Homo sapiens: one gene and its partners. The protein of the gene in region 2 interacts with the protein of the main gene of each other region in a biochemical or structural test. Each region holds a gene or a part of one and is shown on either strand. Other genes may lie near its edges. The genes, in order: H3-4, EP300 and RELA.

Region 1 (2,754 bases), on a different chromosome or scaffold from region 2:
GGTGAAGTAGCTGGACTTCTAACTTAAAATAGGCCAAGATAATACATACTACTTGCTGGCCTTAACAGGAGATGGGCTGTCAAGGCAGAAGACTAGCTGGACTGGTAACCTCACTGGAAACAAGCTGCGTGTACACACACACACACACACGCAGGACTTCTAACCTAATTTGAAAGAGGCTGAGCTGAGAACACACAAGACCAGCCAGCCTTCCAACCTAACTGTAGATAGGCTGAGTTGACACAACTAGCTGGGGTTGCTTACCTAACTGGAGATAGACCAATTAGGCTACCCTCAACACCCCGTCCCCAAAACAGACCAACCATGATTCTTATCTAAACGGATAGGCCAAGTTAGCCCCACACACTACTAGCTGGATTTGTGACTGGAGACAGGCTGAGAGGTAACGCGTGTGAGTAGCTGGCCTCCTAACTGGACAGGGTGAACACAGGATTCACCAGCCTCCCACCCTAATCAGAAGTAGGTAAGCCAGCACAGGCCAGCGGAAGGAACCCCCCGAAACCCAAGAGACTAGCTTGCTACAGCAACTCTTCGACCAGGTGGGTGGCTCTTAAAAGAGCCTTTGGGGTGAACGTTGCGCAACCTCTCAGGTGGCGAGATAGCCCTCCTAGGCCCGCTCCCCGCGGATACGGCGTGCCAGCTGGATGTCCTTAGGCATGATGGTGACCCGTTTGGCATGGATGACACACAGGTTGGTGTCCTCAAACAGCCCCACCAGGTAAGACTCGCACGCCTCCTGCAGCGCCATCACGGCCGAGCTCTGGAAGCGCAGGTCGGTCTTAAAGTCCTGAGCGATCTCGCGCATCAGCCGCTGGAAGGGCAACTTGCGGATTAGCAGCTCAGTGGACTTCTGGTAGCGGCGGATCTCGCGAAGCGCCACCGTGCCGGGCCGGTAGCGGTGCGGCTTCTTCACGCCGCCAGTGGCAGGTGCGCTCTTGCGAGCCACCTTGGTGGCCAGCTGCTTGCGCGGCGCCTTGCCACCCGTTGACTTGCGCGCAGTCTGCTTGGTTCGGGCCATGAATCCGAAACTGTTGGCCCCGCGGTGTCCTCTGCCCAGACCTCAGCGGATTGCTCGCTTTTATAGAGCTTGCCGCGTTCCCATTGGCTGGCCTCAGGTGGCGTGATGGCCCACTGCTCTCTGATTGGCCCACAGGGAACTCCACTCGGGCGCCTCTCCCTTATATTCATGCCTGTTGGTCGTGGCCACCAGAGCTGGCACCAGCATTGTGAAGGGTTGATGCGGGTAGGCCGCGGTGGTGGGGATCATCTCTCTCCAGCACAAGCTTCCTCATGTCTTCTCAGCGCTCCTCTTCTCCCTTCCCCATGACTTGGGTGGCAAGAGCCTTCCAGAAGCCAGCACATGGCATTCCACTTTTTTAAAAAATTAATTTATTTTTTTATTTTTTGAGATGGAGTTTCACTCTTGTTGCCCAGGCTGGAGTGCAATAGCGTGATCTCTGCTTACTGCAACCTCCACCTCCCAGGTTCAAGCGATTCTCCTGCCTCAGCCTCCCGAGTAACTGGAATTACAGGGATTACAGGTGTCCGCCACCATGCCTGGCTAATTTTTTGTGTTTTTAATAGAGATGGGGTTTCACCATATTGGCCAGGCTGGTCTCGAACTCCTGACCTCAGGTGATCCACCCGCCTCGGCCTCCCAAAGTGCTGGGATTACAGGCATGAGCCACCAGGCCCAGCTGGCATTTCACTTTTTTTTTTTTTTTTTTGAGACGGAGTCTCTCTCTGTCGCCCAGGCTGGAGTGCAGTGGCGCAATCCCAGCTCACTGCAAGCTCCGCCTCCCGGGTTCACGCCATTCTCCTGCCTCAGCCTACAGAGTAGCTGGGACTACAGGTGCCCGCCATCATGCCTGGCTAATTTTGTTTTGTATTTTTAGTAGAGACGGGGTTTCACCATGTTAGCCAGGATGGTCTCGATCTCCTGACCTCGTGATCCGCCCGCCTCGGCCTCCCAAAGTGTTGGGATTACAGGCGTGAGCCAGCGTGCCCGGCCGGCATTCCACTTTTACACAGTGACAAAGCTCTGGGATGCAGCCAGAGTTAAAGGAATCTCCCACTTTTTATGACCTGCAAAGAACTCCCTTACCTGTACGGCTTAGATGAGCCTTAGGATTCTGAAGAAGGTAAAGATGTGCCTTTCTGGCATATTGTCTATTTTGAGATAAAGGCACTTAAAAAAAAAAAAGAAGAAGCAGGTGTAGGAAGATCATTCTGAATTTCTTGTTGTTTCTTAAATACAAGAGATGAAATTCCCATATGAAAGATGTTCTCCTTATAGTAAAAGCAAGGGAACGTTCTTATCATCAAGGACGGGAGGTGGAAGCTTCCAAATCTCCTCCAACTCTCAAGTTGAAATTTGATCCCTAAAGTTGGAGCCCAGGGAGGGGGGGGCCAGTGGGAGGTGTGTGGGTCCTGGGGTGTCACCCTCTGAATAGAGTCCTGCCCTCCTTTAGGGTGAGTTTTCACTCTGTTGGTTCCCTGAAGAGCTGGTGTTGAAAAGAGCCTGGCACCCCTCTCCCCTCTCTCTCTGGCGTCCTCTCTCGCGGCAGCCCTGTGACCTCTGCACATACATGGGTTCCCCTTCACCTTCCACCATGAGCAGAAGCAGCCAGAGGCCCTCACCAGAAGCAGAGGTGGGCCCTATGCTTGCTTCCTTCCTTTCTCCCTCCCTCCCTTCCTTTCTCCTTCCCTCCCTTCCTCACTCCCTCCCTTCCT
Region 2 (3,600 bases):
CAATCAGTTCACGTTTGTAGTTCATGATTGGAACTCTTTCAACTTCTAACCTTGATTTCCAGGTACGTAACTCCACAAAATTGTTTATCTTATTTCCCCTAAAATGAGAAAGTGACTGCAAACTGCAAAGAACATGCCCCTGTTCTCCCAACCTAAAAACCCAGAGTTTCAGACATTTTGGTCTCACACCAAAGAACTGGGAGATGTGAAATGAACTGCGCTCCATATTGATTCTTAAAGCAAATAAGAAGAAAAAGGAAAAAAAAGCTAAGAATGGTAGGTAAGATAAAAGAATTGTTAAACTTCACCTCTAACCTGAAATCTTGGACCTCGCACACACAAAATCAAGATTTTTTTACACCCTATTCCTCAACAGAAAATATTCTGCAAAGGAGAGAAAATTTCGAAGAGTGGAAAGTAGAGGAAACACAGTAAGTACAGTAAAGAGAAAGGATTCGAAATTCATTTGCCAAGAACAAAAAAAATGAAACTTAAATTGCATAGGAGCTCTTACACACAAATGCATTGGCATTTCCCAAATTAAATTGCATGAGAGCAACAATACAGGCCATTTCTATATAGCACCCACTTACGAGCTCTAATTCCAGAACACACACCGATATGACATAGTGTTGCAATCAATGTATTAGGAGGCAAAGAAAATGGTTGGGCTACTGGACGTCTTCGACCAGCTCATTCAAATACCTTTAAAATTAATTAAGGGGCAGGGAACTAGAGAGAGAGGAAGAAAAAAAAAATGGAAGAATAAAGGCGCACCGAGTAGAAAAGATTAAAGGGAACGTGGAAGGCCGGGGCTGCCGAAACTAACCTGTGCCATCGCTGGCGGACGCCGAGAGGGCCGGAGATGAGAGTTTAGGCCGCTTGGCTGAAGGCGGCCCCGGTTCCACCACATTCTCGGCCATTTTTAATTCTTTCGGAGATACAAGCGAGGAAAACCAGAATCCTCAGGAAATCTCTTCTTCGGCCCGGGGTCCCCGCGCCGCACCCAGGGGTGGGCTGGGGGGCTCCGACGGCACCCGAGGGGGTGGGGGAAGTTCCTTTTTCTCTTCGCCGGGTCGCAGTGGCTGGAGAGGGATGCGGACTCGATAGAAAAGGTAAGGGCAAGTGCGAGGGGCCGGGCCTGGGCCCAAGCCCGGAGGAGGGCACAAGAGCACAAATTCGCCGAGCGCGTCCGCTGCGGCGAATTCCCGAGAACTCGCGGCTCTAGAGGCGCAGTCCCCGGCCCGCCACGGCCGGCCCCTGCCCAGCCGAGGTCTCTCGGAGCTCCGCCGCCGCCATCAACCTCTTCCTCCTCGGCGCTGTCCTCCTCCTTCTCATCGCCACAAGGAGGCGGGGGCGAAAAGGGGGGAGAGGAGGAGGCGACAAGAGACACTCACCTCCTCCCGGTGCCCCCTCCCGGGCCTGCGCCCCCACCCTCCGAACCCTCCTCCTGCCGCCGCGCTCCGCGCCGCCGCCGCCGCACCGGCCCCTAATGGCCGCAGAGAACTCGCCCGAGCCGAGAGCCAGGCTGGCGCCGCCGCCTCACATCGCGCGGCGGCCGGCGGAGGCGCGGCAAGGACGCCGGGAGCGGAGCTGGCCGGACCAGAGGGCCGAGGGGGCCGGGCCGAGCAGCGCCGCCCGCACGCCCGCGCCGACGCGGAGCCCACCGAGGAGGCCCCGCTCCGGCGGCGGCGCAGGCGGCCCCTCCTCGCGCCGCGCTCCCCTCCTTCGCCTTCCTTTCCCGCGGAAAATAAATAAATACGGCCGCTGCTACGGCCCCCACCGCCGGCGGCCAGGTGCTGGGAGCGCCCGCCCCCCGGGGCTCCGTTCGGGGCCGCCCGCGGCGGCGGGAGAAGACGCCGCGGGGCGCGGGGTTATGTAATGGTCCCCCCTAGGCGTCGACGCCGGCCCGGCTGCTGGACCGCGGTGGGGGTGTGTGCGGACGGGAGGGGGCTGGGGGTCGCCTCAGCCCGTGCGCCCCGGGCCCCCTGCCACTGTCTCGGCCCCTGCCGCCTCTCTCCGACCCGACTCCCCTCCGCACTCTCTGGCTCCCGCAGTTAGCACTCAGCCCGGCGTCCTGCTTGCCCACTCTCGCCCGCTCTCTCTCGCCCTCTCTCCCCCCCAGCCTAGCACACAAACAAGATGGCGGCTGTTGTTTCTTCCCTCTGCCGAATCCTCCTTACAGGCTAGCGGTAGCGGCGGCGGCCGGAAATGAGCCAAGGGGGGGTGGAAAAGGGGAGTGGCCGGGCCTCCGGAGGGGGGCGGGGCCTAGGCCCGAGCCGCTCACACAATGGGGGAAGTGGAGCCGGGGGCGGGGCCTGTCCCAATCACGGGATCCGCCCTAGGCCCCAACGCGGTTAGCGCTTCCGCAAACTCCCCCGGCGTCACCCTGTGGCTCCCTTTAAAGGGGAGGATTTTAAGAGTGGGGAGGATTTTAAGGGGGGAGGGGCGGGGGCGGACTCAGAATCTATTTTCAGTCGGTGGATAGTTACGAGGGAAGGTTCCTGCCTTTGGTCTCTGCGTAAGGGACCAGTGGGAACCGGGACGACGGAACCCCGGAGCTGCTCCGAGGAAGGCGCCAAGTCGCCACTCAGGTGGCCAAATGGGAGCGCCCGTAGGGCGGCCCTGCTCTTCGGCCCTTGGGTGGCGGGTCCCCCAAAACCCCGGTCGAATTCACCAGGCAGGGTGTACCCACTGCCGGCTGTTCCGGGCCAGATACCCAGTGCGTCCTCACTTCTCCATTGCCCTCCCAAAGGGAGCAGTTCACATCCAAAAAGCACGTTGATTACGAGTTGTTTTCATTTTCTCTGAATTTTCCTTTTCCTTTTTATGTATTATTTATTTATTTATTTTACAACGAGCATTATTACTCTGACCAGAAAACAAAATCACAGCAGTGGAAAGATGTTTCGGCACCAGACCCAAATTCATTTCTTGCCCTCCACGTGTGTCCATACGCCCTTACCAGGTAGCACTCTCACCGCAGAAGCCTTCAAGTATTTTCCTAAACATGGCTGGGACCTGAAGACATTTCTAGGGTTTGTCTTTTTTTTTTTTCTCGTCCGCTCCCAATAGAACAAGTTAGTAAAAGACCACGTCTAGCCATTGCCTTATCTAATGTAATTATGGGAAAAACAAAAATGTGGTAAAGGTAATGTAAGGATGGAAAAAAGCAAAAATGTAATGGTGAGAGGAAATGCTGGAATATAAAGTCTAGTGTGTGGGACTCCACAGTTTTGCAGCTGAGGTCGGAGACGTGCTTTCAGGTTCCTACACATCACCCTGTGTTTGGCCATGGGTAAATTGGTACTGGAGGAGGTGGCAGGGGTGTAAGTGACCCCGAAAGAAACCCCGAAACCAGTATCTACTGATACGGTTAAAAGCTTTTTCTCGGCCAGGCACGGTGGCTCACGCCTGTAATCCCAGCACTTTGTGAGGCCGAGGCCAGTGGATCACCTGAGGTCAGGAGTTCGAGACAAGCCTGGCCAACATGGTGAAACCCCGTTTCTACTAAAAATACAAAACTTGTCCGGGTGTGGTGGTGCACGCCTGTAATCCTAGCTACTTGGGAGGCTGAGGTAGGAGAATCTCTTAAACCCG
Region 3 (3,824 bases), on a different chromosome or scaffold from region 2:
CTGAATCTGCCCCTCTAAGACCACATGGTGAGGCCGAGTACAGGGGCCATGCTCTGGGCAAAGAGGAGACCTGGGGGGCCCCAGCCTCCAGCTCACACCTTCCTGCACTGCTCACATCCTGGCTCATTGTCAGCCTCCACCCAGGCCTGGCGAGAATTTCTTGGCACTCTGGGGCAGCTGAGGCACAACTGCCTTAAGACTTCAGCAGAGACTCTTATTCTTATCTCTAATGGTTTCATATTTTAGTCAGAGCTTTCAGAACTGTCTTTCTAATTACAGTGGTATTTCAGTAGCTCCAAAGCACTTCAATTCCATCAATTCAAAGACAACCTCATCATCCCTCAAAAACTAGGTTCTTTCTCCTGCATTCCCTGACCATCCGCCATCTGCCCTGTCACCAAAGCTAGAAACCTTGGAATGATTATCTTCTTTTCTCTCACTCCCCGCCAGTAACTTGACATATATTTATCAAGCACCTACTATGTGCCAGCCTCCCTTCTAGACACTGGGGATGTGGCCGTGAGTATGCACACAAGGTGTCTGCTCCCAAAAAGTTGGCATCCTAGTGAAAAAGTGAGAGGGACACAATCATATATACAAACCAGAAAATCTCGGCCAGGCGTGGTGGCTCACGCCTGTAATCCCAGCACTTTGGGAGGTCGAGGCGGGTGGATCACGAGGTCAAGAGATCGAGACCACCCTGGCCAACATGGTGAAAACCCCGTCTCTACTAAAAATACAAAAAATTAGCCGGATGTGGTGGCGGGCGCCTGTAGTCCCAGCTACTCGGGAGGCTGAGGCAGGGAGAATCACTTGAACCCGGGAGGTGGAGGTTGCAGTGAGCCGAGATTGCACCACTGCACTCCAGCCTGGGCGACAAGAGTGAGACTCTGTCTCAAACAAACAAACAAAACCAAACCAGAAAATCTCAAGTGACGGTGGTCCAGGGACGATATGGTGATGTAACAATACTGGAAGTGAGGTCAGGACAGTCTAAATGTAGAGGGAAGGGCTAATTTAGAGGTCAGGGAAGGACTGGCATGAGCCACTTGCATTAAAACCTTGGGCATTCCAAGCAGAGGCAACAGCTAGACACAGGTCCTGAGGTGAGACTGAGCTTGGTCTGTAAGACGCAAAACGGCTGCAGGGCTGAAGGGTAACTGAGGACAGTGGTGGAGATGTGATCTTGCTCTGCTATTCCTTCTGTAAGGTTTGTGCCGCATCTTCTCTTCCTGGACTACAGCAACATTTCCAGAATGGCCTCCCTGCTTTGAGTCTGTCTGTCTCTGATCTTCTACACGTGGCCTCCTGAGTCAACTTCCAAATCTGCTCCTGTCACCTCTCTGCTTAGAGGCCTTCAGCTTAACCAGGCCCTCCAATCTCTGAGCCTGCTCACTGCCCAACATCAGCTCAAACCACGAAGGTGGCCCTGAATAGGCCGTGCAGTTGCCAACACCCCTTCCCTTCCAGGTGCTGGGCCACCTGCCTGGAGAACACACTTCTGTGTCTTTCTCCAGCTTCAATGCCACCTTCTCCATGCAGCTGTCTCCAGCTCCCCGGAGGCCACTGTGCCCCCGTGCTTCTCTGCGCACACCTCCATTTCACATGTCATTCCGTGACTTAAGGATCTGTTTTGCACATTTGTCTTCCTCAAGTGACTGAGACTCTGAAGGGCAGGGAGCATGTCTTACTCATTTTTTGTATTCACAATACCTGGCACAGGCCCTGGTACCAAGTGGACACTCAAACCTCGACCAAAATGTGGCTGGGCTGTATGGTAGTGACAAGACAACCAGTGTGGCAAAAGGATCCTGAAGCCAGATGGCCTGGGTTCCAACGCTGACTCTGCTAGACTCTGCTACTTACTAGCCACGTGAACCCAGGCAAGTTGGACACTATCTCCTACTTCAAAAGGGTCATGAGATTAAAATCAGGTAATCCAGTGAAGTGCCTGGAATAGGGGCAGATGTGTAGTACTAGCTCAATGTCTGAGGTATCATTATTATTAAATGAGGCAAGAAATGGATTCCAGTTTCTTGGATCCCAAGCTCTGACTCCAGCTTCTGGCCCTCAACCACAGCCCCAGACATGCAGTCTTGGCCTCTCTCTCACGGCACAGAGCCCAGCTGCCCTGATGCTGCCACCCCAGCTGTGTACCTGTATCTGGCAGGTACTGGAATTCCATGGGCTCACTGAGCTCCCGGTCGGAAGGCCGCCGCAGCTGCATGGAGACACGCACAGGAGCCTGCAGGCTGGGGTCTGCGTAGGGAGGGGTCCGGAACACAATGGCCACTTGTCGGTGCACATCAGCTTGCGAAAAGGAGCCTCGGGCCTCCCAGCCTGGTCCCGTGAAATACACCTCAATGTCCTCTGCAGGAGATGCGGTGGCAGTGTGGGTCAGTGTGTCTAACCCTCCATGGTCTCCCCCTCAACTTCTGATGCTTGTCTTCTGATACATCACCCTTCGGCCCACCTGAGGCCCCCGAGGCACAGGAGGAAGTATCCAAAGCCAGTTACCTGACACTCCACTTCTCTGCTCAGCTTCACCCCTTGCTCCCAAGAGCCCACCCCTGCCTCCTGATGTATACCTTTCTGCACCTTGTCACACAGTAGGAAGATCTCATCCCCACCGAGGCAGCTGCCAGAGTTTCGGTTCACTCGGCAGATCTTGAGCTCGGCAGTGTTGGGGGCACCTGAGGCAGTGAAAACAAGGGAGGATGACCTGAGCCACGAGAGGTCCCCAGGGTGGCCTGCAGGAGATGCAACTTCCCTGCCCAGCCCAGAGTCAAGGTTGCCCAGAGCTTGCCACCTACACCTTTGTAGCCAAAGTCAGACCTTCTTATTAGCTCCTCACCCCAACCGATTCAACAAGTATTTGCCTACTGTGCACTCAACACTGATCTAAGCAAGAATACGACCACACACAAAACCCAAACCTCTCTGCTCTCCCGGAGCTTATAGTCCAGTGGGTGCCAATCTGATCACACTCTTTCTCCACCTGACCAAAGCAATCTTTAAGGCCAGTCCATACCCACCTTGGCAATGAGCCCTTCCCTCCTGACCCCCAGTTTATCCTGGTTTCCCATCCTTGGGGCTCCAGATTCGTTTTATTTCCATTCATCCTGCTGGTTACTTAACTAAAGACTGCAGCTGATCAGTCAGCCCAATTCATCTGTGGGCTTCCATCACTGAATCATCATTCTCGAACACTATCTTGTTCCTGGGAGTTCATTTCCTAGAGTCATTATCGCAGTTGTGGGCACACCACCTTCTCATCACACAATACTGAAAATGCCCATCTCCCATCAGACTCTCTGCTAGACTTCCTGCCAGGCCAGAGCTACACCTCAAGGACAGCTCTGGGTCTTCTTTGCCCTCTCTCCCCAGCCAACAAAGAGCTGGGCAGAGAAGAGTAGACAAATACGCAAGATGATTGAATGAAGCCAGAGCGCCTCTTGCAGGCCACACTCACCCCAACCCCCTTCCTCCTATTCAGGCCCACCCTCTCCCCTTCCTGCGTCTCCCTCGCTACTCACGATTGTCAAAGATGGGATGAGAAAGGACAGGCGGCAGGCGGAGGGGCCTGCCTGATGGGTCCCGCACTGTCACCTGGAAGCAGAGCCGCACAGCATTCAGGTCGTAGTCCCCACGCTGCTCTTCTATAGGAACTGCCAAGAAAACAGGCGATCAGGAGAGCAGGGGAAGTGGGGATATAGGTGCTATCAGTGGGGGCAGGGAGCTCTGCGCTGGGAGGGCCGCTGGTGCGTGTGTGAAACACAAGTCCTAGAGGAGGCAGAACCCAGCACTGACTCCACTGTGGCCTG

The links.
Region 1: of the proteins of EP300 (region 2) and H3-4, one has a biochemical effect on the other in vitro, tested with the Homo sapiens proteins (5 studies listed by BioGRID).
Region 3: the proteins of EP300 (region 2) and RELA form a complex in vitro, tested with the Homo sapiens proteins (6 studies listed by BioGRID, with this or other methods).

What each region holds. Positions count from the first base shown.
Region 1 is NC_000001.11:228,424,287-228,427,040, forward strand, and holds H3-4 (histone H3.1t), read right to left. Parts: upstream 1,075-2,754; 5' UTR 1,040-1,074; coding exon 629-1,039; 3' UTR 559-628; downstream 1-558. UniProt on the Homo sapiens protein: Core component of nucleosome. Nucleosomes wrap and compact DNA into chromatin, limiting DNA accessibility to the cellular machineries which require DNA as a template.
Region 2 is NC_000022.11:41,090,328-41,093,927, reverse strand, and holds the start of EP300 (histone acetyltransferase p300), read right to left. Parts: upstream 1,337-3,600; 5' UTR 924-1,336; coding exon 830-923; intron 1-829. UniProt on the Homo sapiens protein: Functions as a histone acetyltransferase and regulates transcription via chromatin remodeling. Acetylates all four core histones in nucleosomes. Histone acetylation gives an epigenetic tag for transcriptional activation.
Region 3 is NC_000011.10:65,656,130-65,659,953, forward strand, and holds part of RELA (transcription factor p65), read right to left. Parts: intron 3,669-3,824; coding exon 3,537-3,668; intron 2,694-3,536; coding exon 2,589-2,693; intron 2,371-2,588; coding exon 2,158-2,370; intron 1-2,157. UniProt on the Homo sapiens protein: NF-kappa-B is a pleiotropic transcription factor present in almost all cell types and is the endpoint of a series of signal transduction events that are initiated by a vast array of stimuli related to many biological processes such as inflammation, immunity, differentiation, cell growth, tumorigenesis and apoptosis.